2 separate regions of the Homo sapiens genome follow, and region 1 is linked to region 2. Evidence: fine-mapped expression QTL. A gene starts in region 2. The other region holds a variant in brackets. All regions are shown on one strand. Distances are between the middles of the regions.

Region 1 (17,530 bases), 270 kb after region 2:
AGACTAAATAAATCTGAAAGGCTCCATGGTCAAATTAATTATAAATACCCCAAATTAAATAGTATTGACTTCACCTAGGATTTCTCCAGCTAGTTTGATCACGGAACTCTTATATCCCCATGATGACATCCATGTGGTAAAAACTACTAACGTCCACAGAACTAGTGTTCCGTAAAACAAATACACCGGGAAACACAGATTAAAATTTTCAAAAATTGGTTAGCCACAGGTAAACACATGTATTCAGGCTTTCAGTTGTCCAGATGATTAAATACACTAATTTGTATTTAATTTGAGATGAAAGAGGTTTTACTGTTCATTCTCCAAATTTTCTTTTGGCAAACAATCTAGGAATAAGGTACTTTGAAAACTTTAACGCTAACCTATAAAACGGAATCCCTAAAAGCAAAGCTGGGGTTGAGCTCTGATGTGGGGTGTTAAAGCAGAGGTAACACTTGACACTCTTCTGTTTCCAATCAGGCAGCGGTGAAGGCTGTGGTGGCCTCTTCGCGCCTGGGAAGTGCCAGCAGCAGCCATGGCAGCATCCAGGAGAGCCACAAGGCTAGCCGAGACCCTTCTCCAATCCAAGATGGCAACGAGGACATGAAAGCTATTCCAGAAGGAGAGAAAATTCAAGGCGATGGGGCCCAAGCCGCAGTTAAGGGGGCACAGGCTGAGCTGATGAAGGTGCAAGCCTTAGAGAAAGTTAAAGGTGCAGATATAAATGCTGAAGAGGCCCCCAAAATGGTGCCCAAGGCAGTGGAGGATGGGATAAAGGTGGCTGACCTGGAACTAGAGGAGGGCCTAGCAGAGGAGAAGCTGAAGACTGTGGAGGAGGCAGCAGCTCCCAGAGAAGGGCAAGGAAGCTCTGCTGTGGGTTTTGAAGTTCCACAGCAAGATGTGATCCTGCCAGAGTACTAAACAGCTTCCTTCAGATCTGGAAGCCAAACACCGGCATTTTATGTACTTTGTCCTTCAGCAAGAAAGGTGTGGAAGCATGATATGTACTATAGTGATTCTGTTTTTGAGGTGCAAAAAACATACATATATACCAGTTGGTAATTCTAACTTCAATGCATGTGACTGCTTTATGAAAATAATAGTGTCTTCTATGGCATGTAATGGATACCTAATACCGATGAGTTAAATCTTGCAAGTTAACACAACGTAACACTTAAAAGCATACATTTTCAGCAACCAGTGGCACATATTTGAAGTGAATAGTAGCAAATTGTTTTTGCTTTGAAAATCTAGCCATCCTACATCCTTTGGATTTCTTCACAAGGCAGTAATTCCTTTGAACTACTGCTTAGCTAATACTAGGTAGTGCTAAAAGACATGTTCCCATAACTTTTACAACATTTTACTTTTTATCATTGATGTGTTCAAACTGTTTACAAGGAGATGCTTATAGATGATAGTTGTACATATGTGCAAAAAAAAATCCACTTGCAATGGTAAGAAATTGAAGTATCCTTAAAGGCCATGAAGCCATATGTCCCTAAAGCCTGTGTGGAGAATGCTTTATTTTATTCTTATTTATATACACTATATTAATAATAACCAAAATGTTCTAAGATTCTGCCATTTTACAACCCTGGAGGAAGTAATTTACAAACTCACGCTGAGTTCCATTCTTTCCTTCACCTGCTCTCCAATAAGATGACTTTCTGATAGACAAAGCTTAGGGTGTAATAAACAGGGAAGAAAAGAAGGTAAGACTGTACTTAAACTGATGAAGATAAGATTGATTCCTTTTCATTTTCCAGATAAAATTGTATTTACTCATGAATTTATACAACTTTACAGATAAGAACATTTTAATGGATAAACTCTATAATTACCAAGTTGCAAATATTTAGAAAATTCTATTTCACAGGTTAGTGCCAAAATGTCTTCATAGAGTAGGAATAATATTCCATTTTAAGATTATTCATTATTGACTTTAATAGAGTAAGAAAACATTATTGTTTATCAAAGCTCTTTTTTTATCCAATTGATGGTTATCTACACATATCACTTATAAACTAAAGTTATTTATGAAAAGCTAGTATGTCTTTTTCTCGTATTTGGAATGAAAGTACCCACATTTTACAATGTAGTGTTGAGAATGTGGCTGCCAATAAATTTAGCACAATGCAATTTATTTACCTTAAAAAACAAACAAAAACAAAAATAAAGAAAAATACTGATTTCAAATCAGACTCTTAAAAAGCTGGAACATTAGACCTGATATTTTATTATGATTTTTCCCAGAATAAGTTTAATTTCTCTTTGACTTTCATAGAAACACTTTCCCCTTATAGAAATTGCACTATCTCCAATTTATTTCTAGTTTGAGTTGAAATGAATATTTTATCAGATTAATTATGTGTCACATTTTTGGTGGGTTTTCTCAATTTTAAAAAAGAATTCATTTTAAAAAATAATTATTTTCAGAGACCAAATAAAGACAATAAAAATGACTATCACATAAAAATCCTTGTTAAAAAAGAGATCTTAAATTATGTTGGCTCTCCCTCAAAACTATTAAATTAGAAAACGAAACTAAAGCTCCAGTTTGTAGAGGCTGTTGGACCTCAGTAGACATTCTTCTTTTCAATCACAAATCTCTCTCTACTACTGTTCTCATGGGAAGAAAACAAGGTAGGACTTCTTATCTTTCATAGTTTAAGAATCTGACAGGTCACTGATATGGAGCCCCTGAAGAAGCACATCATCTGGGCTCAGAAGATTATTTTTTGTTTTGTTTTATTTGTACTATCTAGTAGAGAGCACTTTTCTTATTCCCTCTTTCCTTCCTTCCTCATTTAATTATTCCCTCTCAGAATTCCCATGTTGTCCATTATAAGGGGCTCGCTATTTTTAACCTTTAAGAATGTCTTCTTTGTTAAGCATTAAGATTTCCATTTAAGAGGATCAATTTCCTGTTGTACTTTTTACCATGAGACTGAAACACACACACACACACACACACACACACACACACACACACACGTGTTGGAAGAGCAAAGAGAGGGAAGGGGGTCTTTTTAGAAAGTGGCACTTGGCGCTTAGCTGAAAGATCAGAACACATCATTCCTCCCTGCCCACCCCCATATTGTTCCAAGGGCAGTTGTTACATTATTTCAACACTAGAGTAGGGCGGACTGCATTGTTTGGCCCTGAGAACTATAGAAACAACGTTGCAAATACCATGCCCAATGTGTATTTTAGAATTTACTCATTTAAATGAGTGCATATTACCATTCCTCCATGTGAGTACTCGAGTTGATAATTCCCTCTATCTTTTTAAACCCATAAACTACATTTTTAAAAAAATCAATGGGAGTTTTAAATTTTGACTCATGTTAAAGATAAGATTCTGATAATGACTATATAGTGACTAATTTCATTGTTTCAGTAGGAAACAAATCAAACTTTCAAAAATGTTGGTCATTTCAGTCAAATTATTCAAAGATTTCATATACATACATCCTAAGTTAGGATAATTATGTTAACATTTTTGAAAGAACAGCCAATGTTTATATTGCTTGTTAAAATGGAATGTATTGTCTATCTCAAAGATTACTTAGCTAAATAATAGTAGACAAATGGAGATTTAATTTCACAAAATACTTCATAACATCACTCCTAATTGGCAATATAGTCACAAAGCAAAAGAATTCAAATTTCAGCAAACAATAAATTACATTTTACATTTTAGAGCTAACACTTATCACATTACATTATGGGTTTTTATTTTGAGATAAGTTCAGCTACATAGCATAAACTAGGTTTTTTTTTATAACCATGAAGGACAGTCTTGAATTATTTCCCCCATTAACAAAGTCTAATTGGAATCCAGTATTTTTTCTCAAACTGTAATTTCACTTGTCCCAGGACACATAAATAGGTAAAAATTAGAATAATATCGTGGTAGAAGTTAATTGTCCAGAACAAGTGCATTATATAAATATAATGCAAGCACATGTCATTTAAGATTTTCTATTAGTCACATTTTAAGAAAAATAGATGAAAGTATAGTATTTTTAATCCAATTCATCCAAATTATTCTATCGATATATAGTCAATATTAAAATTTAATGTGATATTTTGAATTCTTTATTTTTATACTGTTTTCAAAATCAAGAGTGTATGTTAGGCCTTTGGGACATCAAGTGCTCAATAGTCACATGTGGCTAGTGGCTACCATATTAGACAGCACTAGTCTAGAGTACTTTTTATTTTAAGCAAAGTGACACTTGAAGTTCTATGCTTAGATTTAAGTGGCCTCAGTTTTCACATTGAGGAGCTGGTGGGAGGCCACAAAGAAAGTGTTTCAGAAATGTTACACACTGAGTAAAAGCTTATTGACCACTCCTGCCCATTCATTTACTTCAGAGGAGAAATGATTCCTAACATGACTTCAAAGAACGGGCATTACTAAATTATCTACTGACCAATCCCTCTGATTCCTGATGGGCCCTGGAGTCTTGACTACAGCCTAGAGTCTCCTGAGTACTGCCATGATGCCAATAGCATTCTTGCTTACCAAAATCTACTCTCAGCCAACTATGTGTCTTCATTCAGGAAGAACTGCACATAGAATCTGATTTTGAGGCCTGGATTAAGCTTCATGCCATCCTTGTATCACAGGCAATATGTCTTTCTGGAAATCTAATGAACCATACCAAATCTGCATGATGAAGATTGTGTAATGATGGTGATATCATGCCAGTTATCCTCAAAGTGGGAATATGACCATTAGCTGGCATTTTTTAAGATTTCCTTAGAAGGGTTTAATCAACACTGCCATTACACATGGATTTAACAAAAGACTTTTGAAAATTTTTTACATACTGATTTTAGAATAATCCTCAAGGTTCTATAGTCATTTTTAGTGGAAGACTTAAAAAGAAAGGAACAATTTTTACTGTGACTTCAATTTCATAGTATTTTAAACATATTTTGTAATTCAGAATGTTTAGCAATCCCTATGTCCTGTTTCACATGCATGGTAACTGATGGTGGGTTGCCTACAGGCTGAAGATTTGGAGAGAGCCATTTTGTTTCATAAATCAGTTTTTATTGCACAGAAGCAGCTGGTTGTATTTCAAGTTGGAAAAAGAAAAGTAAATGCCAGAAAAGGCAAAGGATAAACTTAGTAAGCCATTTATTTTGTTTTAGAATTGTTTTTGCAAAGCAAATTTTTTTAAAAAAAGGTCAACAAAGTGAATCAGCACTAGCATTTTCTTGATGGTTGACTCAATGTATAATTAACAAATATACATAGCAGAGTCAATTAATCATAGTGCCATTATGTCACTTATTTGTCATTGCAAAGTATTCAGTCATGTTGTCTAGATTTACTTTAGATGGTGCAAAATTTCCAGATAGTAACCTATGTAAAAGGATTTGTAATTTCCTTGTAATTCCTGCCTATTAGTCCATATTCTGATTTCCTTATGTTCATCACTGATATGTTCCTGATCAGGGTCATTGCTAGTAGTTGAGCATTTACTGGTTGAACATTGTTTAATGGTTAGATGTTATGTGTGTCTGCATTTAAAAAAATTGTGTACATGTTATTTCACTATTGGTATTACAATATTCATAACCACATGATAAACAGAAATGTACCCAATAATTTCCTATAAAATTTTTCAAAGTCCTTTTATTCCCCTGACACACTCAGGGTGAATTTTTGTCTCCTTGGCAAATAAGAAAAAAAAGGAGAGAGACCACTGGAGAGATATCAGCAAACCACCCACAGTAACCAAGTTCAGTATTTCCTCTTTCTATATTTTGACCAATATATTAAGAGCAAATTTTGTCATTATTACTCCTTGTGGCTATTACCTGAGATCAGATAATATAATCTCAGCTCATAAAGCTTGGCCATGTCTATACTTATCTTGGAGAGCAATAACAAACTTGATTAATTTGTTTGGTTATTTAAAATTCCAACTTTCATAAATGCTCTGTGATGTACTCAAGACGATTGGGTTGTGTGATACTAACTTCCTTCAAGAACTCAGTCTGTTCCCTGTTGTCTGGTTCAGAGGTCCACCAGGGCAAAATAGAAGCCTTGCCGAGAAAGTGAACTGTCTTACTCCTTCAAAGGAATCAGATGTTGCTCTAGAGAAGACTCCAGGCATCTACCTGGTTGAGCTCAAATGAGGCAAGTGGGAGAAAACCTCTTCTCATCCTCTGATTGAAAGTGATACAATTTGAATATTGGTATATTGTCATTGGTCAGTAATGGAAAAATGAGATTCCACCAGTGGGTTACTCTTTTCTTGTCTTGGTTTGCTATGCCTTATCCCAGATCAGTGTTTTGTTCCATCCCTATGGTCATCTCTAAAGCCCTGACAGGAGCATCCCAGACTGGAGAAATGCAGCGTATCTGTGGCCCAGAATTTTGTTTGATACTCTAAACAGCAATGCAAAGACTGCAAAATCACACTATTCTAAACAGTTGTTTTCAGCTCATTTTGAAGATTGACCTGGAAAACATATAGATACAGAATATATACATTTAATCGTTGCTTGTGATTCATTGTGTCAAAATAACATTTAATTTTCACTCTGATTAATCTTTATTTTCCATTTAAAAGATTATTTCAGGCTACTTAAATACAAGACCTTGCATTCTAATTTTTGAAAGCGGTTGTTTTCCCTGAGCTCTCTCTCAACTTTGACAGTTTGTGAATGATAAAAAGTTACTAGGTTTGTCCTTTCCTTGATAGATGTAGAGCAGTTCATCTGTTTTGTAAAGGTACAGTTAAGCATAACTATAGGCTGGGCGTGATAGTTCATGCCTGTAATCCCAACACTTTGGGAGGCCGAGGTTGGCAGATCACCTGAGGTCAGGAGTTTGAGACCAGCCTGGCCAACGTGGTGAAACCCCTAATACAAAAATTAGCTGGGCATGGTGGCACGCTCCTGTAATCTCAGCTACTCAGGAGGCTGAGGCAGGAGAATCTCTTGAACCCGGGAGGCAGAGGTTGCAGTGAGCCAAGATCATGCCACTGCACTCCAGCCTGGACAACAAGAGCGAAACTCCGTCAAAAAAAAATATATATATATGACCATAAATTGAAAACTATCATCTCATACTGCCTCCTTTTAACCTGACCTATTTTATATACCTACAATACAGTTAATATGCAGCAGCGTAGAGAACAAATAGCATATTCATAATTTGTAATTTTGTTTTTCTTTTTACGGCACCCTTAAGTCTCAGTAATATTTTAAAAGTCCTCTATAAGCCAAAAGAACGTTGTAACATATCCATTTATTAAGGAGTTAGGCCTAAACATAGTAATAGTAGTCCATTCCATGTCCAACAGATGTTGCTGTGTTTCTTTCAACATTTTTCAATGTCTTGTGAGTTTAGTGAGTGGGTACAGCTGAGTTGGGGTTTAGGTGATTTCTTATGCCCAATGAACTAAAGGTATCAGTAAAAGATTATTAGTAAACAAATTAGTTATTTATGCTCTTACTTGAATGTCAGTCATTCATTTTATCTCTCGTCTTTGAGATACACACATTAAAACTTATGTGCATATTTTTTTAAAGAGTAATTTCCACATAATTCCCCAAGAACTGAACTCAAATCTCCAAAAATTTTTCAGAACTCAAGCAACCAATGATTCACAGAGCAAATCTACCAAAGCCCCATTTTTATTGGAACACAGGCATGCTCATTTATGTACATATTGTTTGTGGCTGCTTTTATGTTGTCAAGGCAGAGTTGAGTACTTTCAACAGAGACCATATGGACTGCAAAGCCTAAAATGTGTATCTGGACCCTTACAGTAAAACAATGACCCTGGGTTTTCATGGCACCCCAATGCCTTTTTGGTGACTTGCAGGAATACAGATTCCTATATTCC[AGTTT/A]GTTTTTTTTTTTTTCTCCTTAGCTTAAGGTTCGTATTCCCATTTGCTTCTGAGAAAGTTAGGAAAATTTTGTTTTATGTTGCAGATGCTCTCACAACAATAATTGTGCTGGAGATAGATACAACTTAGTGAAATTTTCCTACAGAACTAAAAACGCAAAATTGCATCACTCCTGAAGAAAAGAAATTTAGAGTATGAATTGAGTTGGTTGAGAGTAGAATTAAAAAGATTTCTAGCACTTTGAGCATGTTTTAGAAATTTGATCCTTACATTTAAAATTATGTAAATGACATCTTTCACTGGCATTTGCTCACATTTAAGTCAATCTACAGCTGTTACTTACTAAGCTAAGAAATAAGAAGATCCCTATGGTTCTGAATCTCTCATAATATTCTGAAGTAATTTATATCAATTGAATTTTCATTAATCATTTTAGGAAATATTATGTTTTATTTTGTGGCATTATATGACAATGACTTTCTCAACAATAGCTCAGGGAATACGCAAACAGCCAGCTCTTTTATGTAAGAAAGCCATTTTCTAATCCCCACGCTTTCCTGAGTGTTACGTATTTTATTTCTTTGAAAAGAGAGGGCCTTGAGTAAATGCTTTCGTTTGCTTTCCTTACATATTTAGAAATCCAAGAAGGGCCCTTGTCTTAGTCTATTTCTGTCACAGAGAAATTGTTCATTCCAAAATATCCACCTTAAGGGAAGCTAGTGACCGAGATATGGAGAAAAACATAGGCATTCATGACCTTTGTGTTTCCGTTTGACTTTCAACATCTGTAACCAAAAGGTCACAAATGAAATATTTAGTAGAAAGTGCAATATCAATTTATTAGGAGTACCTAAAATTATAACTCTAAATAATATACAGCAATATTATTGCTCTATTATTACAGCAATCAATAATATAATATAGCCACTAGGATACACTCGCTGTAGAACTCAGAACAAAAGATATCAATCTTCTGCCAGTCCGCATCATTATGTGTAGCAGAGACTTTACTGGAATGAGTGAGGGGAAAGATAACAAAATGTAGATTAGGATTCCACATTCTCCCCTGCCCATCTTCTTGATTGCTCAGTTTGAAGACGATCATTGATGGACAAATACTTTAGAAATGAATGAAGTCAATAGCTAATGTTTCTCCCAGAAACTAAACAACATAGTTTAGGGGATATTAGGCCTACATTCTAATCACATTGTAAGGAAGTGATTTTCTAATTTTGAAGCTTCCCAGGAGCAGCCCCCTCCAGGAACAATTTTCCCTGTGAACTTTCACTGAGAAACTATTATATGCCATGGAGGAGTCAAAGATGAATTAAATCCAATGCTATCCTCCAGGAGTGAGCTTTGTAGTTGGAGAGAAAAGCCAACCTTATAGATACAACCTGTACATATATAACCTATGCTGCATTTAGGCAGATGATAAGCCCTAGGAATGGAAAGAGGGAAAAGCTCCCTTTTGCCAGGAATGATGAAGGAAAGCTTTATGGAAACACAGGCTGTATGTGAAAGATGGGTGAATCTTTGCAGGTAGGGAAGAAGTAGGGGGCATGTCTGGCTGAGAACCGGCCTGATCATAGAGTGGAAAAATGAAAGGCAGAGGTGAAGGAAGAATACTAAATGTGAAAGGCTGAAATACACAGGGAAGTGTTGCCAGTGTGCAACAGAATCTCATCTCGTGCAAAATTGAATTAGACTTCCTTACTCCTTCCTTACTCTGGGTAGGTCCATGTGCAGCCTTTCCTCAGAGCATCTAGCCTGACATACTTGGCTCATCTGCTGTGCTTCTAAGCCAAATAAAAATCATCAAACACATCGAAGATATTTTTGGGAGTCACCAGGTTAAAGCAAAGCCTCAGTCACTGAAAGCAAAAACTGAATTGGCCAGGTCTCCACTGACAAAACAGAGTAAATGATAGTATGACAGATAATTTCAAGTTTTCCAAGACTCCAATTTCTGAAAAATGTCTCATGACTCCAAAAAATCACGTACTTCCTAAAATGTTGCCAGTGGAGGACCGAATCAAGGTTATTGCTGACCTCATTTTTTCAACCTTTTCAGTTATTTGACCTGAATAGGCAATCCCCCAGGATTTCTGATTGAATTCTACCTGAAAGTTTAGATTTTAAAAGACAACCTGTAGGAAGCTAAGTCTCAGGCAACAAAATTTAAAACCATCAGAACTTGTTTCTCCAAACATCAACCTGCTCCTGTCAAGTCCTTTTTCATCTCTCCCTTTTGTCCCTTTACATACTGTTTTGTAAGTTCCTTTTGATATCATTTATTGCAGGCAGTATTTTTACATCCATCTTCAAGAAACTTGGGAGACATTTAGACATTTAGTATGTGTACTTTTAGTTGTCTTGCCTCTTTATTTCAGATAATGCCTGTGATTAGTGAATGGCGGCATTATTCCTGAAGACAAATGAAGGAAGATAGGGAGCAAGATTGACTGTCATTTGAATGATGGAAGAGAAGTAGAATTACTGTGAGGTTACAAAAATCGTAAGTTAGCAGACATTGAGAAAGGAAAACTTCCTACTTGGGCTTTTCAGGCTTATGTGACATTATCTGGATGTGTTTTCTAGTCTTTCCTAAAGGAGAAATTTTTATTCCTGGGTTGCTGAAAGCTTTCTGGACTAAAAGGATATAAGCAGCTCAATAGCAGCATAGAGGATTAGATTAATGGAACAGCACTGCATACAGGAAAGCTACATCTCCAATAGTTTAGGCTGCAAGTCAGTAGCCAAACACAAGAGCATGTAAGATTTGGAGGACAAAGTATAAATATTTTAAGTTTACACAACCAAGATTATAGGCTACCTTCCCAACTTCTAATTTGAAGAGCACTGAAAATGGAGCTGTGAACACTTCATTTTTAAAACCTGACAATATGGTGCTATTGACTACTTAATACAAAGATATATTACAATATTTTTAGGTAAATGTATTAAGTCTGGCCTGGGCATAAATGTACATACAGAAAATGTTTGTAGAGAATTCATCAAAATCATGCCCATTTGCTGTTGTAGAGCTACAGTATTCTTCAATGGTGGTGACTGACCAGTGAGTTTCTACTTCTTACAGATGGGACACAACAGTCATGGGCTGTCTCAGCTGCCCAAAGCCTGAGGCAGACCACATGAGAGCTGTGGCTTCTTCTTGGATTCAGGTTGGATAACCCAATTCAGTAATTAAATATGTAAATTTTGGGGGGGGTTGGGGGGTGTTTTCTAGGAACTTGAAGAGTACGTGACATTATAAAAAATGGGTGTTGGAAGACTAATTGTAGAAATTTGACCTGAGGGCCAATGTTACTTGGTGTAAGTTCACTCAGACAGACATGTCAGAACATGCCCAAAGAAGCCTATATCTTGCTGCTGGGAAATGTAAAGCAGTTGGCATGTAGAATACGATAATAAATCATTTAAGAAACCACCAAAACTTTGCATTCTGTGATTTCAAATGTTACCACAATTCAAGAGAGACACCATGGACATTTTTCTTACACCTGAAATGTGCAGTTGAATCACTCCTTGAGTGTTTTCCCATTCTCTCAGATAAAATTATACTTTGAGTTTCATAGCCTTTTTTTTAACACTGAGTGCTCACATATTTTCTGTTGAGTAAAATTATAAAATCACTAGAGTTAAAAGAGGATATTAGTAATCATTTAATCCAATAAGCTCACTTTATTAAAGAGAGCTATTATGCCCAAGAGAGGTAATGGCTTACCTAAGGTCACAGTGGCTGAAGAAGGAATAGACCAGGGTTGCCCAGCTCCTAGTCCAGTGCTCTCACTACCATTCAGGCTGCTATAATAAAATACCATAAACTGGGTGGCTTATCACAATTTATTTCTGACATTTCTGGCACAAGTCCAAGAACAGTCCTGCAGGTTTGGTATCTATGAGTGCCTGCTTCCTCACAGAGGATGCCTTCTTGCTGTGTCCTCATATGGCAGAAGGACCAAAGCATCTCACTTGGGCCTCTTCTATAAAGGTACTAATCACATTCATTAGGGTTACCTAATCAACTCTCAAAGCTTTTAAAACCATTATCTTAGAGGTTAGGATTTTAACATCTGCGTTTTAGGGGAACACAAATATTCAAACCATAGTACCAGATGTTTTATTAAATGAGGAAAGTAACTCCCTGCTTCACAGTCATATTTTCTATTACATACTTACCACAGCATCCCTAACTGCCTTCTTATAACATAGATCGTGGGTGTCCTTGTAATCACTTTTAGTTTTTTTCAATTCCAAACAAAATATCATAATTCCTAATCAAGGTAACACAATTATTTCAACATGTGTACAATAAATCCTGTCCATAATTTACAAAGGCACAATATATTATTTGTTCTGAATATATAATAGCAAATAAAGTTTCAGCAGTATTGTATAACAGCTAATATTATATGAGACACTGGCAGGAGAGATCAGCATGTGTGTTGTTAATTTGACTTTCCAGGTTTATATTTTCCTTTTGTAAGAATTCAGGAAGTTAAATTACATACTTTAAATTCAGGCATATGAAACTAAATAGTACTTAATGTTAAATTACAAAGATAATATCAATGACCAATTTTAAGAGTGTCTACAAATTTTTATTTTGTTTCATACCAATTTAAAAATAAATACATATTTTATTGATACTAATACATATTATTAGTTTAATAAATATTCTAGTTTTACATATTGGTTCACAAAAGAATTATATAAACTTCTTAAAAATAAAATCTATACTATAGCTTTTATTGAACTGCAAGAGATGAATTTTAATATTTAACTATACATGTAAAATCCGTAAAAACAATACAATAATTTAAAAATTATAGTTCCAACTTCCTGTTTTTTGAAATTATTCTGATGTTTCTTCTACACTCAAGTCCCAACCTTCTCTACTTCTAGAAGTTGAATAAGAAAGACATGGAAGATACAGCAGGCAGGCAACACAGGTTCTAGGGGAAACCTGATCAAGCCCTTAGCTTCTCTAGTTCTGTTGATTTCTCTACAGGGTAGGGATCACTACAGTCCCATTTAATTAAAAGAAACTGGATTTAAAACACCTGATTCTAAGGACGGTGGTACACTCTTGAGAAAAGAGTTAAAGCTTTTATTTGTATGAAAGGCAATTACTCAGCCCTAAAAGCTCAACAGACAATTAAGGGCTTAAATTATACAATGTTTTCCCATCTTCTCCAGATACAACCTCAATTACATAGTTTTTTAGCTTGAGATATTAATTGAATTCAGCATGATTGTTGATAAAATGCCCTTTGGTTAGAAAAGGAGGAGGAGAGAGAAGGGAGGGGAAGGAAAAAAATTCTATTAACTAGGAGATGTTGTACAGATAGAAATCTACAATTTCAAATATATCCAACCTGAATGAACACTGAAATAAAAAGATTTTTAAGATTTACAAGCTCCCTAGTACTTTAGCAATTTATCTTATAGATTAGTTAACTACAGAATACTAGATTCTCATTATTTTTTTTTGAGTACTGTTTTAAACTTTAAGGGTTAACTAAGAGTTATCAACACAAACTAATATTTCATGCAAAAGTATCACTTTTATAATAATCTTTTTCTTGTATGAAACTAATTTCCTTAAAAAATAGCTACTATATACTGAAAACAGTATTATGCCAAATATTTCCCACATACACAAGTTTCTAATACGTACTACCTACAAGCTACAGAATAGTCAACCATTTAACAAGAAGGCAGATTATATTCTTTCATTTCACCAACTGCCATATCAAAAGTTACTTATCTTTGAAGGAAAATATTTGCTGGCAATAATTTTATCTCATTGACAACTGATTTATATCTAAAGTTTAGATGTCCTATTTATCAAGCAATGAAGGCTCTAGAGACTAACAAAGATTTCCATTTAAGATATTATTCCGTATTATTGTCTATTTCATCTTACTACAAGACAAATTAATAAATATGCTATAGGACTGTGCTATTCAATACAGTATCCACTGGCCTCATGTGGCTAATGAGCACTTAAAATGTGGCTTGCCCAAATTTGTAAAATGCATACCAGATTTCAAAAAATTAGTACAAGAAATAGTACAAACTATCAGAATAAATCTTTACATCAATTACATGTTAAAATGATAACATTTTGGATGTATTGAGTTAAATAAAATATTAAAATTAACTTCAGCTGTTTATTTTTATTTTTTAATGTGGCTTCTAGAATTTTTTAATTACATATATCACTTACATTATTGTTCTATCCTACAGCATTGCTATAGAAGCAGCGGACTCAATTATTTATGTTAATATCCATCCCAACCCACATCATTAAGCTTTTTTATCATTATAGTATGAGATAACATATTTAATACATGATCACAAGATTCCTGAGCTTAGAATCATGAACACCTCCACTCTTAAAAATGAAACCAAACATAACCTGCTGTAATTATCCTGGCAACAGTGATAAACTTTAGATTTGTGTTAGGTATGAGTCTGCAAAAAAGACAAAAGGAATCTTTTGGAATGATGGAAACGTTCTAAATCCAGATTGTGCTGATGGCTGCATAGTTCTACATATGTATTAAAACATCACTGAATTAGATACTTAAAAGTGGGTAAATTACATAATATGTAAATTATATATCAATAAAGCTGTTTTTGTTTTTTTAAAGTACACAGCTAGAGCCCAGCAGATCTAAGGGGCCATCTAGAAGCTGCACATACATTTTAGGTGATTCAAACATAATTTTTAAATTCATCATTCTCACAGTGAAAATGTTTCCATGAGGGTAATTTTACCTAGAGTGGGTCCATGTTTAACGGTGAATTATGTAATTACTTATTGGAGGTATATGTTGATAAGGACAAAGAGAGCACTAGAGTAGAGATAGTGGGCAGTTTATTTGCTTTTAGGGACATCCAGTTCAGGAAATAATAGCCCTTATAGTAATGTGTACTATCTTGTCACAAATCCCTTACTCAAGTTAGGCACCTTTGGAATTTCACCATCCTAGATAGAACAGTAGAATATGAGACTTCCTACTCTACGCTAATAAAAACAAATAAAAAATAGATGAAGTCAAAACTAACATTTACCAATTTCCATGAGAAACTGAAACTAAACTACTGAGTTTTCTTTCACTATTGCAGAACAAAAAAAAAGAAGAAACCTAGTAATTCAAAAGTACATTCAATTTAGAAAAGGATCCTGGTAATTAATAAATCATTAAGAATATAGAATCCTTTGTGCATTCCTTCTGTCAGATCTTGATCAATCTAGATACTATGAGATAATTCACCATGAACATTGTGCTGCTGCCACCTTTTGTTTTTTGAAATCTATCATCACCAGTGGCAAAAAATAAATAAAAACAAAAGCAAAAAACAGCTCCACTGTTCCACTTTGTCAAAATGGGTATGAAGAACTTTGATTTATTCTTTCTTTACACTCAAGAAAACACAATAAAGTAAAACACAGATCAAACTACCATGCACTTGAAACACTATGTACCTTTCTGCATTTCATGTCTTGTTTAGCATGTATTTCAGGGCTCACTTTACCCATATTAACAACAACAAAACAGTAGACACAGGAATACTAACACATAAACAACTAACATTAAACACGGAAATGGATTTCGAGATGTGTGCATGTACACAAAAAAATATATACAAAGATTTGCCTGGATACCTGAATTGCCTCAAGTTCCCATTTTAGAAGTAAACTAGATGGAGAGTTCAAAACCCAAAGTCATTTAGAATGTGAAAATCATTTAGAAATTCTCACTTAAGGCACCCACAGAATTAGGGGACCCACAATACTCAATTCTAATCATTATAAAATGATATCTAGGCACTTGGGTAAATCTAAGACTGTATTTGTTCTAGTTACAGACTGATGCTTTTAAGAGTCTCAAGATAAGTCTTGGACACCAACTGAATTCCACATTTTAAATTGGGGCCAGGCATGGTGGCTCACGCTTATAATCCCAACACTTTGGGAGGCTAAGGTGGGGAATGACTTGAGGCCAGGAGTTCAAGACCAGCCTGGGCAACACAGTGTGACCACATCTCTACAAAAAATTAAACAAAAATTAGCCATGCATAGTGGCGTGCACCTGTATTCCCAGCTATTCAGGAGGCTGAGGTAGAATAACCCCTTGAGCGGTCAGATCAAAGCTGCAGTGAGCTGTGATCATACCACTGCCCTCCAGCATGGGCAACAGAGTGAGAGCCTGTCTCAAAATTTAAAAAAAAAAAAGTGAAAATGCCCTCTCTTAGATAGCTATTTACTTTAGGAATAAAACCAAACATTGTACTAGTGAACCAAAAACATTTCAAATTTTTCTACCGGCTATGCAGAAAAGTGGAATCAATGATTTTTACAGGCCATGTAGCTGAGAGAGTTGATCTGTAGTACTACAAGTTTGAATGTATTTTGCCTCTCATAAAGCTTTTCGTAAATCACCATAGAAGTTGGTTAAAGTGCTTGCCATGGCTGTATCTACCGCAGACTGAGGAATCATCCCACGCAGATCTGTCTGAATATATCCTGTCAAAAGACTCTGGTTTGGGTTGTCTTTAAGTGGAACACAAAACCAACCACAGGGATGGTTATATCCTCGAACAAATTCTGGTCTCTTTTCATCCCAGTCAAGACTTATTCCTATAAGGCAATTTTTAAAATAGCACTATTAATAGCAATAACTGACATAAAACTCTCATTTTAAAATATTACCAGAATTCTTATTTAAATATTTATTATTATCCATATAGATGAAAATTAAATCCCAAAGTGACCATGGCAGAGTGAAAAAGAGACTTACCAAGGAGAATTCTGACAAGAGGTTGGCAGATAGGTAATGGGGAAACTTTTAATCCTTTCAGAATACATGACATCATATCATCTTAGTACTCCTTGGAAGCTACAAATCTTGGTTGTAGTATCCAGGCCTTGAGGTGCCAAAAATCAAATCCATGGTACCGTAACTATTCCCCACAGCGACTACCATATTATAGTTTGGTACTGGCTAGTTAAGAATAAACAAGTAGATGTTTACTTACAACTGCTAACTTAAGTATACACTATATACAAAATAATATTAATTTACCTATAGGTACGTTTTAGAAAACAGGAGCCTTCCAATGGCAGTATTTTTAATCTTGAAAAGAAAAATACAACACAGCTCAAGGAAGGAAGAATATTCTAAGACACACCAAATCTAGTACTTCTCTGTGTATGACCAAGAAACTGTTTTCTGAGAGTGGCTTAGAAGAAAATCCATTTACTAGAACCCTTTCTTAGAGGCAGTCATGTGATCCACATTTGCTACCTCTGACCTAGAGGATACTGTGTAACTGGGAACAAAAACTTATCAGAAGGGTTTCAAAACTCTTTTGATATTGCTATTTTACTCCCTAGAGTTTAGCACTTGCAAAAAATGTTAGTGATTACAGAGTCAGAGTTGAAAATATATCTCACAAGGAAAGAGACATCCAGCCAAGAAAACACAAATATTTAAACCATACTGAAAAAAAGCATAACATGTTGAGATTATTACCACAAGATAAAAGCCCTTCTTTATAGCCCACAGTATAGGAGAAATCAACAAATTCTCTTGGGGAAATTATATTC
Region 2 (14,609 bases):
TGTATGCCCAGTAGAGTCCGTCCAGAAAAGACTGCAAGAAGATGTGAACTCCCCCTATGTGTGGGAGTATGTGGCTCCCAGGGGCTCTGCATTCTCCTGTGAACGCACACTCAACACTCCCTGATATGGTTAGTCTTTGTGTCCCCACCCAAATCTCATCTTGAATTATAGTCTTCATATCAAGGGAGAGACAAGGTGGAGGTAATTGATTCATGAGGGGCAGTTCTCCCATGCTGTTCGTGTGATAGTGAGTGAGTTCTCACAAGATCTGATGATTTTTAAAGGGGCTCTGCCACCTTCACTCAGCACTTCTCCTTCCTTCTGCCTTGTGAAGAAGGTGCCTTGCTTCCTCTTTGCCTTCCACCCTGATTGTAAGTTTCCTGAGGCCTCCCCAGCCACGCGCAACTGTGAGTCAATTAAACCTCCTTCCTTTATAAATTACCCAGTCTCAGGCAGTTATTTATAGCAATATGAAAACAAACTGATACACCTCCCCAATTTATTAACTCTTCTAACCAAATTCTAACTGGTCTCTGGCTGTGTTTGTTCCTGGTTAGCAAGTGCCATCTTTCCTCACAGACATCTTTTTCTCCTTAGATTTTAGACTAGTTGGTTTTCCTGTGACTTCACTTCTCTGAAGTTTTCAAGAAAATCTTGACCTTGCATTTTTTGTTGTTTTTGTAAGGGTGGAAAATATTGTTCTTTCCAATTCTCTATATCTTGAGGAGACACTAGAAGTCTTTTAATCATATTTTTAGTTTTCTTCTTATTGATTTCTAAGGGTTTGTATATTCTGGATGCATATTATTTGTCAAATATTTGTATTGAAAGAACTTACTCTCAGCTCGTGGCTTCTGTTTTTACTTTTTTGATTGTGTCTCTTGCTGTACAGAAGTTTCTAAACTTGACAAACGCAATTTTAAAATCTTTTTCTTTTATATTTAGAGCTCATTGTGTCTTGTCTAAGATATTTTTATATACTGTAATTTCCTGGAGATATTCTTTAATGTCTTTTTTAGAAATGCTATGATAGTTTTAGCTTCTGTATAAAAAGTTTATTTTAAATTAAGTTAATCTTTGTGGTATAAGAAAAAGATTGTAGTTCATTTGTTACTATGTGTTTATTTAATTATTTCAGTACCACTTACTGTAAAAACTTACCTTTGCCTATTTAATTGCTTTGATACTTTTTTCAAAATTTAATCGACCACATGTATATGATTCTATTTCTGTACTCTATTCTTTACCATTGACCCCTTTTTTTCTTGTTATACTAATATCACAATGTCTTTATTTCTGTCTGTTTATAGTAAGTTTTAAGGTCAGATAGAGTTCTCCAACTTTGTTCTTCTCAGGACTGTTTTGGTATCCCAGATGTTTTGTATTTCTTTACACATGTTAGCATACATTTTTCATTTTCTACAAACAAAGCCTATTAAGATTAGTCTGCATACCAGTTAGGGAGAGAATTGTTATGTTAATAATACTGAGTCTTCCAGTCAATGAGCATGATATATCTCTCCACTTAGATTTTTTTCAACTTTTATTTTGCATTCAGAGGGTACACGTGCAGGTTTGTTACATGGGTATACTGCGTGATGCTGAGGTTTGAGGCATGGTTGACACCATCATGCAGGTAGTGAGCATAGTACCCAATAGGTAGTTTTTCATCCCATCCACCTCTTCCTCCCTCCCTCTTCTAGTAGTTTCCAGTGTCTGTTGTTCCCACCTTTATGTCCATGTTTACTCAGTGTTTAGCTCCCACTTATAAGTGAGAACACGTGATATTTGGTTTTCTGCTTCTGTGTTAATTCACTTAGGATAATGGCCTCCAACTACATCCATGTTGCTGCAAAGGACGTGATTTTATTATTTTTTATGGCTGTGTAGTATTCCAAGGTGTATATGTACCACATTTTCTTTATCCAGTTCACCATTGATGAGTACCTAGGTTGATTCTGCCTTTGCTATCATGAATAGTGCTGCAATTAACATACAAGTGTAAGTGTCTTTTTGGCAGAACGATTTATTTTTCTTTGAGTATATACCCAGTAATGGGATTGCTGGGCCAAATGGTAGTTCTAAGTTCTTTGAGAAATCTCCAAACTGCTTTCTACAGTGGCTGAACTAATTTGCATTTCCACTAACAATGTATAAGTGTTCCCTTTTCTCTGCGGCTTCACCAGCATCTGTTATTTTTTGACTTTTTAGTAATTGTCATTCTGACTGGTATGAGATTATTTCTCTTTGTAGTTTTGATTTGCAAAAATTTCACTTAGCAATATCTGGTAATTTTAACTGTAGATGATTTGGACATCTTCTGTTGAATTGATTCCTAAGTATTTTATGCTTTTTATTCTATTGTAAATGAAATGGTATTAGTGAATTTTCCTATCATTTCCTATTAGTATTTGTTTTATATTGTGATTGTTTTATATTGACCTTGTATATTGTGACCTTGACAAATTCACTGATCAATTGTAGTAGTCTAAACCAACTTTTAGAATTTTCTATATAATAGTCAAGTCATCGGTACATGACAACAATTTAACTTCTTTCTTTCCAATATTAATAACTTCTAATTTTACCTAAGTTAGAGCACTGGCTGTGCCTTTAATTTTAATTGTTTTTATTAAGATGTAACTTAGGTACAATAAAATTTATCAATTTAAAAAGTATAATTCAGAGTTTTGACAAATGAATAAAATCCTGTAATCACCACCATAACCATGATATAAAACCTTTCCATCACTCCCCAAATCCCTTAGAGTCTTTTGCATTTGATTCCCTCCCACTTTAGCCCTGGAGAACTACTGATCTGCATTCTGTCACTTCAGTTTTGCCTTTCCTTGAATATCATATAGAGGGAATTATTTGTAGTATTTTGTGTTATATATATAACCCTCCTTGGGTTATTTATTTTGTTCAGTGAAAAATCCACCAATAGTTGTATGGCTAGGGGCAAAATAGACATAAACCTATTTCTCAACATTCTGGGAGCGTGTGCCCTCAGGGGTCTCGCTACTTATCGTGCAGAGTTTCACTTAATCTCTCTTTTCAATATGGCCTCAGCTGTATCTTCTGACCTAAAACATATTTCGTTCCTTGTTCAACATTTACAAAATTAAATATATTATCTTCTTCTAGGCTTTGGTAGGAGTGTTTTTTGGCTGTGAATTGTTAGAAGAGGTAATCCAGGAAGCCTAAAAGCTTTAATTTAAAAAAAGAATTTGTTATGAATACATAATATTTGCACTTATTTATGGGATACATGTGATATTTTTATACAAACATACAGTGTGCAGTGATCAAATCAGGGTAACTGGAATATCCATCCCTTCAAGCATTTATCACTTCCTTGTTGTTAGAAACATTCCAATTCCACTCTTAGTTATATTGAAATATGTAATAAGTTACTGTTAACTATAGTTGCCCTATTATGCTACTGAACATTAGATCTTATTCCCTGTATCTAACTGTATTTTTGTGCTCATTAACTATCCCCTATTTATCCCCTCCTTGCTATTACCCTTCCCGTCCTCTGATAGCCATCATTCTACTCTCTATCTCTAAGAGTTCAATATTTTTCTTAGCTTCCACATATGAGTGAGAACATGCAATATTTGTCTTTCTGTGCCTGGCTTATTTCACTTAATGTCCTCCAGTTTCATCTGTGTTGTTGCAAATGACAAGATTTCATTCTTTTTATGGCTGAATAATATTTCCTTGTGTATACATACTACATTTTCTTTATCCATTCATCCACTGATGGATACTCAGGTTGATTCTTTATCATGGCTGCTATAAATATGAGAGTGCAGATGTATCTTTGATATACTGATTTCCTTTCTTTTGGATATATACTTAGCAGTGGGATTGTGGACCACATGTTAGTTCTATTTTTAATTTATTTATTGTTTTGAGGAACCTCCATTCTGTTCTTCACAGTGACTGTACTAATTTATATTCCCACCAACAGTGTACGAGGGTTCCCTTTTCTCCACATTCTCACCAACATTCATTATTGCCTGTCTTTCTGATAAAAGTCATTTATTAGAAAGATTGTATCTCATTAGAAGCTTTGGGTCACTGAGCCTGTTTAATGGTAGGTTTCACTCTAAGGTGATTTTCTGATAAAAGTCATTTATCAGAAAGACAGGGGTGAGATATTTCCTTGTTTTGATTTGCATTTCTTTGATGAATAGAAATTTCTTTATATAGTTGTTGGCTATTTGTATGTTTCTTTTGAGAAATGTCTGTTGAGATCTTTTGCCCATTTTTCAATCTGATTTTTTTTCCTGTAGAGTTGTTTGAGTTTCTTATATATTCTGGTTATTAAACCCTTGTCAGATGGATAGTTCGCAAATATTTTCTCCCATTCTGTGGGTTGTCTCTTCAGTTTTTTTGATTGTTTCCTTTGCTGTGTGCAGAAACTTTAGCTCGATGTGATTCAATTTGTCCATTTTGCTTTGGTTGCCTGTTCTTTTGAGACCTTACTCAAGAAATCTTTCCCAGACCTATGAAATGGAGTGTTTCCCCAATATTCTCTTCTAGTAGTTTCATAGTTTCAGGTATTAGATTGAAGTATTTAATCCACTTTGACTTGATTTTTGTATCGTGAGAGAGAGGGTCTAGATTCAGTCTTCTGCAAATGGACATCCAGTTTTCCAAGCACTATTTATTGAAGAGACTGTCCTTTCCCTAATGTATGTTCTGGGTGCCTTTCTCAAAAATGATTTGACTGTAAATGCATGAATTTATTTCTCGGTGCTTTCTTCTGTCCTACTGGCCTATATATTCGTTTTGATGCCAGTATCATGCTCTTTTGGTTACTTTACCTTTGTATTATAATTTGAAACCAGGTAATATGACACCTCCAGCTTCCCCCTGCCCTGGCCTCCCCTCAGGATTGCTTTGTCTATTTGGCTTCTTTTGTGGTTTTACATAAATTTTAGCATTATTTTTCCTATTTCTGTGAAGAATGTCATTGGCATTTTGATAGACATTGCATTGAATGTGTAGATTGCTTCGGGTGGTGTGGGCATTTTAAAAATATTGTTTCTTCCAATCCATAAACATAAAATATCTTTGCATTTTTTTGTGTCCTCTTCCATTTCTTTCATGAATGTTTTACGGTTTTCATTGTAGACATCTTTCACTTCTTTGGTTAAGTTTATCCGTAGATATTTTGTTTTATTTGTAGCTATTGTAAATGGGATTACTTTTTCATTTTCTATTTCAGAAATGCTACTGTTTTCATATGTTGATTTTGTATCCTGCAACTTTACTGGACTGATCAATTCTAATAGTTTTTTTTTTTTTTTTTTTTTTGGTGGAGTCTTTAGGCTTTTTTAAATATAAGATCACATCATCTGCAAGCAAGGACAATTTGACTTCTTCCTTTCTAATTTGGATGAAGGGGCCTAATAACTTTTTATAAAATTTTTTAACCAATGTTTTGTTCTCTGTTCTATGCCTCACCTTGAGAACTATCTGGTACTCTAACTTCTGAACATGTCTTGATTTTATAGTAGGGATTAGATTTCTTCTTATTGGCTTTTCCCATTGCAAATCTAGGTTTCTGATTTATTAACTCCTCTGTTACTGTTTGTTTACGTGTTCAAGATTCAGTTGACATCACTTCTCTCTTTCTTTTTGTGGGATGATAACCCTGTTCCTTTTCTGGTCATTTCAGTTGAGTTTTGATAAGAAGTAATGGTACATTTTGTATATTTAATTCCTGTTTCATCTATTTTAATATTTATTAATTTTTATCTATGTCTCAAATGAAAGTAAGCTGCATGGATTATACAAAATATCCTGTTTTTAAACTTCAATTAATAGCATTTTTACAAAAGTCAATTATGAAAAGCATAGATGTCAAATGACTAAAATTATGCTGAATATAAAATGAATTCTATAATCACCTCTGTACCATGAAATGGCTTTCTTGCACCATTGTTACCTAAAGTAGCAGGAGAAAAAAGGCTTACCATCTCCTTTAATGTAACATGCTTGCTTTGGGCTTATGTTGTAAAAGAATTGCTAAGAACAGACAAGCATTTACATGCAGTGCTGCTGCTGCTGGACTTGCCTCAAAGAAGTGAGAATAAAAATGGCCTAGCAACTATTTCATGCCCATTTGTCCACTGGTCAGTGCAAGCCAAGGGAAACTTACTGAGTCAAAGCTAGAATTTAGAGAGCTTTATTATCTTGCTTTGCTTGTGAACTTGATTTTTCAACACGATTAGTGAATCTATTCTCTGAAAAGTAACATCACGTGGGCATTTTCAGTCTTTCACCAAACAAGCTAGTATGTAAGTGAATTTGTATGAATTTGCATATACTTGTTATTTGTTAGAGCATTTGTACATTGAGTTTGTGCTCATCATTATAAAATTATCATGAGGAATAGTTTTTGTACAGTCATGTGTCACACAACATTTTGGTCAACAATGGGCTGCATGTGTAACGGTGGTCCCACAAGACTAATAGAGTTGAAAAATTTCTGTCACCTAGTGACATCATAGCCTAATCTTACAGTGTAATACATTACTCATGTGTTTATGGTGATGCCACTGTAAACAAACCTACTGTGCTGCCAGTCATATAAAAGTATAGTGTATACAATTATGTATAGTACATTATACTTTATAATGGTAATAAATGACTATGTTACTAGTTTATACTATGTTACCAGTAAATACTAGTATAGTATTTACTACACTATACATTTTATTGTTATTTTAGAGTTTTCTCCTCTAGCTATAAAAAAAGTTAACTGTAAAACAGCTTCAGGCAGGTCCTTCGGGAGGTATTCCAGAATAAGGCATTGTCATCATAGAAGATGACAGCTCCATGCATGTCATTGCCCCTAAAGCCCTTCCAGCTTTCAGTGGGACAAGATGTGGAGGCGGAAGACATGATATCGATGCCTGTCTCTGTGTAGGCCTAGGCTAGTGTGTGTGTATGTTTTAGTTTTTAACAAAGTTCAAAAAGTTAAAAAAGTTGTTTTAAAAAGAAGAAAGCTTATAGAATAAGGATACATAGAAAACATTTTTGTGCAGCTTTACAATATATTTTGTATAAAATACCTTGTATTTGTGTTTCAGCTAAGCATTACTATAAAGGAGTCAAAAAGTTTTAAAACATTAAAAAGTTTATAAAGTAAAAGTTACAGTAAACTAAGGTTAATTTACCATTGAAGAAAGAAACTATTCTAAATAAATTTAGTGTAGCCTAAGCATACAGTATGTATAAAGTCTAAGTAGTGTAATGTCCTAGGCCTTCATATCCACTCACCACTTACTCACTCACACGGAGCAACTTTTAGTCCTGCAAGCTGCATTCATGGTAAGTGCCCTATACAGGTGTACCATTTTTTACCTTTTATACCATATTTTTATTGTACCTTTCCTATGTTTAGATATGTTTAAATACACAAATACTTATTGTTGTGTTACAGTTGCCTACAGCAGAGTTCCCAACCCCCAGGCCATGGGCTGGTCTGTGGCCTGTTAGGAACTGGGCCACACAGCAGGAGGTGAGCTGCAGGCAAGCAAGCAAAGCTTCATCTATATTTACAGGGGCTCTCCATCTCCCACATTACTGCCTGAACTCTGCCTCCTGTCAGATCAGTGGTAGCATTAGATTCCCGTAAGAGCATGAACCCTATTGTGAACTGCACATGCAAGGGATCTAGGTTGTGCACTCCTTATAAGAATCTACTGCCTGATGATCTATCACTGTCTCCCATCACCCCCAGATAGGACCGTCTAGTTGTAGGAAAACAAGCTCAGGTCTTCCACTGATTCTATATTACGGTGAGTTGTATAATTATTTCACTATGTATTGCAATGTAATAATAATAGAATTAAAGTGCACAATAAATGTAATGCACTTGAATCATCCCAGAACCATCTTCCCCACCCCCTGTCTGTGGAAAAAATTATCTTCCAAGAAACTGGTCCCTGGTGCCGAAAAGGTTGGGGACCGCTGGCCTGTAGTATTCAGTATAGTAAAATGCTGTACAGGTTTGAAGCCTAGGAGCAATTGACTATTCCATCCAGCATAGCTGTGTAGTAAGCTATACTATCTGGTTGTGTACAAGTACACCCTATGATGTTCTTACAACTGCATCGCCTAAGGATGCATCTCTTCAACTTCTCACCGTGGTTGAGGGATGCATGACTATATATATTTTCAATTTCCAATCAGCTAGGAATCACATTCCTGTAACTACTTGATTGGATATTTTTGGTTGTTTGTTCACCAGTATAGCAGGCAGGCTTTTAAGAATAATAAATCCATAAATTAGATTAAAATATTGGACCATATTAATGGTTGGTGCTATCAGGAATGGAGACTTACTAGGAAGAGTTTAGCGCATGTTGGAGGAAACTCAGGAAAAAAAAAAGGCCAAAAGTAACACCTGTGAAGTAAGGTGAAAGCGCCTGGAGCTATTTAGCCAGAAATGAGTTGTGGTATAATAACTGTCATAGATATGTATCAGAACATGACTAATTGTTGTTCGTCTTTGCTGAAATCTGAAAAGAAAAAAGTTCAAGGGTAGTTTAAGTGATGTATGTTTAATACTGAGAAGAAGAGCCATGACAGCTGATGGACAGGACATAAGAATGCTTATCATGGGATACATCTCTTGGGAAGAGAAAAAGGGCTTTTACATGTAGCAGTCTTCCCTGTCATGAATGAGGACAGGTCCTGCCTTAAGGCAGAGGGTTTACTAGTTGGCTTCCACAAGGCCCTTCTAGAACTGTAATTCTGAGCCACTTCAGATGCTGAGATTGAACTCGACACAGCCAAGTATCTCCTCTTTTAGGAGCTCCAGCAGTGCCGAGGAGGCAGTGCCACCAGCAGCGACGACAGCATTTATTCCAACTGAAGACTTCACTCAAAGGTGAGTCAGGTCAGTGTGGACCTGGGCGCTTCCTTTTCCTCCAGCTCTCACTGGGTCCAGGCACAGGAGCCCTGAGGGATCGGCGACCACAGTACTCCCTCCCCGGCCACCAATATAAGCTTTGACAGAGGATGGCTGGTTAGCTGGTGTTAGGTGGGAGGGACTCGCCACGGAGACGCGCTCAAGGAGGGATGAGTTGCGCCACCACCACCTAGGTCCCTCTCTCGCTATCCGGCGGGGCCGCCCGGACCCAGGTGCTGCCAGGGTACGCCTGGCGCCCGCCATCCCAGAGCAGCGTCCCGCTGCGCACGGTCTCCCTCCAGCTCCGGTCCCCGCGGGAGGGCGCGTGGGATGATGCGCGGGTCCTTGTGCCTTCCCCAAGCTCCAGCATCCGGAGCCGCCCTAGCCGGCACCGCGGCAGCCACAGCCTGGGAGAGAGAAAGGAAAGAGGGAGGGCGGCGGGAAAGGCTCGGCGCGGGAGGAGGGCGGGTGAGGAGGGAAGGAGCGAGGGGGAGGGAGCCTCTCTCCTCAGCGGTGCAGCTAGTCTCCCTCCAGCGGGCGGCGACTCCGGGTTCCCCCTCGCGCCCTCTCGCAGAGGCTCGCCCCCTTCCCCGCCCACCGTCCCTGCGAGCGCGGGCGGCGGCGGTGGGCGTGTGCGCGCGTGAAGGACGCCGCCTCTCTCTCGCTCCTGCGTTCGCAGGCGGCGGCTGGCGGCCGGCTTCTCGCTCGGGCAGCGGCGGCGGCGGCGGCGGCGGCTTCCGGAGTCCCGCTGCGAAGATGCTCAAAGTCACGGTGCCCTCCTGCTCCGCCTCGTCCTGCTCTTCGGTCACCGCCAGTGCGGCCCCGGGGACCGCGAGCCTCGTCCCGGATTACTGGATCGACGGCTCCAACAGGGATGCGCTGAGCGATTTCTTCGAGGTGGAGTCGGAGCTGGGACGGTAAGGCGCGGGCTCCGGCTGGGGAAGCCCGCGGCGTGCACTGGGGGTTGTCCCTCTCGCAGCGACGGCTCGGAGGGTGCGGGAGCCTGCCTTCGTGCCCTTCGATTTCTCCCTACCTAGTTAGTGTCTTGAGAGAGAGCTAACCTTCATTCAGGTGCGGCTCGAGTCCTTCCCACCCCACCAGAGCGCCTAGGCCGGTGCAGCTGTAGGATCAGCCCGACTCCCTCCCACCTTCCCTCCTTCTCGCAGGCTGCCACTTCCCTTGGGTGACAGCTCCCACCGCACGTGGGCCCTGCTTTCCCAATTGATATCTTTGCTCACGATTATAGCTTGCCAGAGGGTCCTGTTTGTCTAGTTATTGTTTAGGGTGGGGGCCGGAGGGTGCCCCTCCAAATCAAGACAGAATTATTAAGTTAGATTCCTCCTCCTTCCCCTCGTCAAGCTCTCCAAAGCAAGTGACACGAGAAATTAAACTTAAATACTAGCTTCCCTGCAGAGTCTGCTCAGGAGTGAAGGGAGAAATGAATCATTTAAGAGAGTTGAAGGCAGAATAATGAACTAGTGTGGCTTTAAAGAGAAAGCAGCATATGGGATCCAGGCAGTGGTAATTAGTGAGAATGCTGCTGCTTCCCTTCTTTCATGGGCTGGAGTGATTTATTTAAATTATATATGCAACAGACCATCTCCCTAGGATTGCAGATATGTCCCCTATCCCTCCTCTGAAGATCCAAACAGGTAGCAGTTTGGCCTTCTGCATGATTCCATATGCTTTCGTATTTGTATCCATTGAAAATTATAGTTTTCTTTCCCTTACTTCCTTTTTTTTTGTCTTTTCTCTCTGTTATCCATAGGTAAGGAGATTTATTTTCAACACTTATTTTAGATCCAGGCTCTTTAGTATAGGGAATCTGAAGATGTAATTTCAACGGTTGACAAGTTGCAGCTTCTGTACTTACTACTCCTTTGCAATTTCATTTTTCATTCTCTTTTTGCTGGAAATAGTATTGCTAACAGCCTTTTTATTTTTTCAAGTCATTGGAGGATCCAGAGCAGGATTCTGGATGTTGGTATTTAGTGGGAAGATGTAATGATCACTGCCCACTCTCCCCCCACTTTGCTAGTACTATTGAAGGCTCATTGAATATAGATGTGTAAAATAGGCAAACTTCTGAATGAAAATTCAGTGATTTGTCACTGTTAAAAATGTTTTGAAGTATTTGAGCACTGAATAATGTATACATAAACATCCATTTTTGATCAAGTTTTTCAGTATTCATCTGAAGATCTATTATATATATAGGTGGAAATGAAAGGACAATGATGTCGATTTTTGTAAGGTCCAAAACATGCCTGTTATTAATTGTATGATGCGTGACAGTGGAACCATGTAAACCTCTGAGTAAAGGGATGATCTACTTAAAATTGTTTACTGGGTGTTTTATAAACTACTGTGTAGTAGAGGAAGTGCCTGATGCTGCTGCAGGGACTGTCCCAGTAGCACATCTGTTTTCAGAGTAACATTAACCCTAGATGCCTCAAATAGGCTGACTTATCCACACACGTTGTCTTTATGAATAAGCTTCATCGTCATGAAACTCAAGAAATTCACTTTAATTTGAAAAATGGGAAAAAAATAAACTGCCAATTGTATACCCCTATGAGATGGTAGCCTGCATAGGAAAAAACTGAGAAATTTGAAGTTTGGGTTTTTTATTTTTCAGTTCAGAATTACGTGTTGCAGTAAATTTTGGAGGACAAATATTAATCGGTTATACAGAAGCTTCTCAACTTATGATGGTGTTATGTCCCAATAAGCCCACTGTAGTTGAAAATATCAGAAGTTGAAAATGCATTTACTACACCTGTGCTAACAAACGTTGTAGCTTAGCCTAGCCTACCTGAAACATGCTCAGAACACTTAATATTAGCCTACATTTGGGCAAAATCATCTAACATAAAGCCTATTTTATAATAACTGTTAAATACCGTGTACAGATGGGATTTTGTAGACATGGTGAGATATGAAACACAAAACACAATATTCAAAAAACACTGACAACAGAGAACACTCTAGAGTTCCGGTTGTTTACCCTCCTGTGGTTAACTGGGAGCTGTGGCTAATGGCCGGTGCCCAGCATCAGAGAGAGTATCCTACCATGTATAGTTCAGGAAAAGATCAAAATTTGAAGTACGATTTCTACTGAATGCTATCACTTTCCCACCATCATAAAAGTCGAAAAATTGTAAGTTAAGCCCATCCTATTGGAGACCCTCTGTCTATACATTGCTAAGATTCTCGCTCTATTATCTAGTCTTATGATTACTGTAAAAGATCACAGAGTTAAACTACATTGAGGAACAATAAAAGCTAAAATGTCTTACTTAGGCTCTGTTTGTCAGCAGTAAAGCGTATTGTTAGGTAAGTTTTCTGTACATGGCAGCATTCGTGGGGTGCATGCTTACTCTGGCTGAGACTTTGAGAAGTATCATTTTCATTATCAGAAATTTTTAAGTAAATAAACTTAAAACATCAACTACTATTCTAGATATAATTATTAAGAATCGATAGAGCCAGAGAATGCAACAGAATGATGATCGTAGATATTGGCTGAGTGACTAAAATCTTCTTTCTTCCTACACTAGAGATCAAGTTGAACTCAGGTCATCAGTTTCAAGCCTTTACTCTCAGCTTTGGACCAAATCCACCTGCTAGTGTGACTCTAATTCATTAGTAATGCAGTTGTCATTAATATACTAAGAGAACAGTGCTTCTGGTGTTACGTGTTGCTGTTGTGGTTAGCTCTAGAAAGTAGACAGTCTCCACCAGAATTAGTGATTTGTTGGCTCCTCCATTACAGTTGTCTGTTGTAAAGTAGTGACTCCTGATTGCAAGAAGATTGGACGGTGACCACTGGGGCGATACACCCTGAGGATGTGTTTGGGAACTCAAGGGGAGCTAAACTCCCAAGGCTATATCCACCTGAAGCCCCTGGATAGTGCTGGCGAAGGCAGGTGCTGGCAGCACTGATCCACATGGAGCCATTGAGACCAAGACAGATGTGCTCACTTTCTTTTGGCAGGGAGGGCATAGAGTATAGGGGTTACGGGTGAATTAAAAGTATCAGGCAAAGTAATTTTCCTAAAATCACATTTGAAGACACTGTTTTGTTCATAGAGTTTTTCAAAAAGTTTACAAAAATCATGACACACACACATTCAACTCTACTTAAAAATACGAATTGGCCATGATCCTATTCAGGGCTCCAGATCCTCGAGAGCAGTTGGTCTTTTGCCCAGTGATTTGAGAAACTGGCATTTTAAAGGCTTTTCTGAGGGAGAAGGGAGCTGCCTCTGGTCCAGATCCCGCCCAGTGGTTTGGCACATGGAATGACAGGAAATGGCCCAGCCTGCTTGGTGGTGCAGATTTCGTCTGTGCATGCAAACCCATGTCCTGTTTTCAGTTGTCTCACCTTTAGTTTCTCACTGTTGTTCCATGTTGAAAGAAAAGATGATAAGAAAACCAGATGTATTCCCAGACATACAAATCCAAGGAAACCAAACCAAATGAAAGATAATTAGAACAAGAGAAGAATGTGTTAAACTATTTTGGAACCTTTTTTTTCTTTAAATTTAGTTCCCATTCCACTTACTGTAGTTTCTTTAGGCTAGGCACTTTGCATACTCCTCCCCACTGCAATGTAATTTTAAATAATACATTTATGTGTCACATTTATGTAAACACAATTATGTGTATACATTTATAATTTTAAATACATTTATTTGTCAACTCAATTAAACTAATTATATAGGATCCCTTGCTATATGTATTATTGTTTAGGAACCAAATAGATTTCCATAGTAAGGGGTGTGTGTGTGTGTGTGTGTGTGTGTGTGTGTGTGTGTATAAAACAGAAACAATTTCATAAAACAGTGTTTATTCTTATTACCAGCAATGCACTTTAATATTTTCTATTATATGCTGTTTGATTTCATCTATTTTGTTAAAAAAACTTGGCTGAACCCATGTGATTTCACATCCCACTAATGTGTTGTGATTCAGTTTGAAAAGTGCTGTTGTAGGCCATAAATCTGTGTGTGATAGATTAAGCTATGAGGCAGAGTCTTTTAAAGAAATTCCCTGCAGACCAATTGGCAACATTGGGTGGTATCCTTTTGGCACAGCCCTGTAGAGAAAAAGGCTCCTATCTTTGCCTCCAGGTCATTACTGATTTTTCCCCTTCTAAACATTTTGGAAAAACTCTGGTGTCTCCCTAAGGTCTGCTGGGCACACAGTAATTTGAACTGGCTAAGAGTGCCAGGGGCTGTGTTGGGAAGGAACTCAGAGACTGAGAAGTGGTATATTCTACATGGTAACATGTATTCTGGCTCCAGGTCACAGTGAGCAAATGCTTTCTATAAGGAAACACGAAAGCGTGCATTTTCTAAGAGAAGGGCTTCAGCCAATGTTCTTGGCTTGTCTTAGTGCTCTTGGCTCTGGTTGATATAACAAGATGTCTTAGACTGGGTGGCTTAAACAATAAATATGCATTTCTCACAGCTCTGGAGGCTAGGAAGTCCAAGATCAGGGTCCCAGCCAATGCATTTCCTCAGTTAGGACTCTCTGTTTTGCAGATGGCTGCCTTCTCGCTGTGTCGTCACAAGGCAGAGAGGAAGAGAGAAAGAGAGGGGAAGAGAGAAAGAAACCAAGCTCTCTGGTGCCTCTTCTTACAAGTGCACTGATCCCACGATGAGGG

What was found. PIP is the estimated chance that this variant, and not a neighbour inherited with it, causes the effect. A credible set is the group of variants that fine-mapping cannot tell apart.
Region 1: its variant is the best candidate, but not a certain one, in a credible set for the expression of CAMK4 in whole blood (INTERVAL, PIP 0.58).

What each region holds. Positions count from the first base shown.
Region 1 is chr5:111,483,546-111,501,075 of GRCh38, forward strand. CAMK4 (calcium/calmodulin dependent protein kinase IV) reads left to right here. Exons shown (of 11, transcript NM_001744.6): 11 at 481-11,341. The coding sequence ends at 921. It overlaps STARD4 (StAR related lipid transfer domain containing 4), which reads right to left. Exons shown (of 6, transcript NM_139164.3): 5 at 17,457-17,530; 6 at 12,488-16,561. The coding sequence ends at 16,341. Among named protein-coding and RNA genes, the nearest start is that of STARD4-AS1, 20 kb to the right of the region's middle. The variant AGTTT/A (reference allele first, on the strand shown) is at 7,881.
Region 2 is chr5:111,214,790-111,229,398 of GRCh38, forward strand. CAMK4 (calcium/calmodulin dependent protein kinase IV) reads left to right here and starts at 9,595. Exons shown (of 11, transcript NM_001744.6): 1 at 9,595-9,855. The coding sequence starts at 9,695. RefSeq lists enhancers at 8,724-8,823, 9,784-9,833 and a silencer at 9,184-9,673.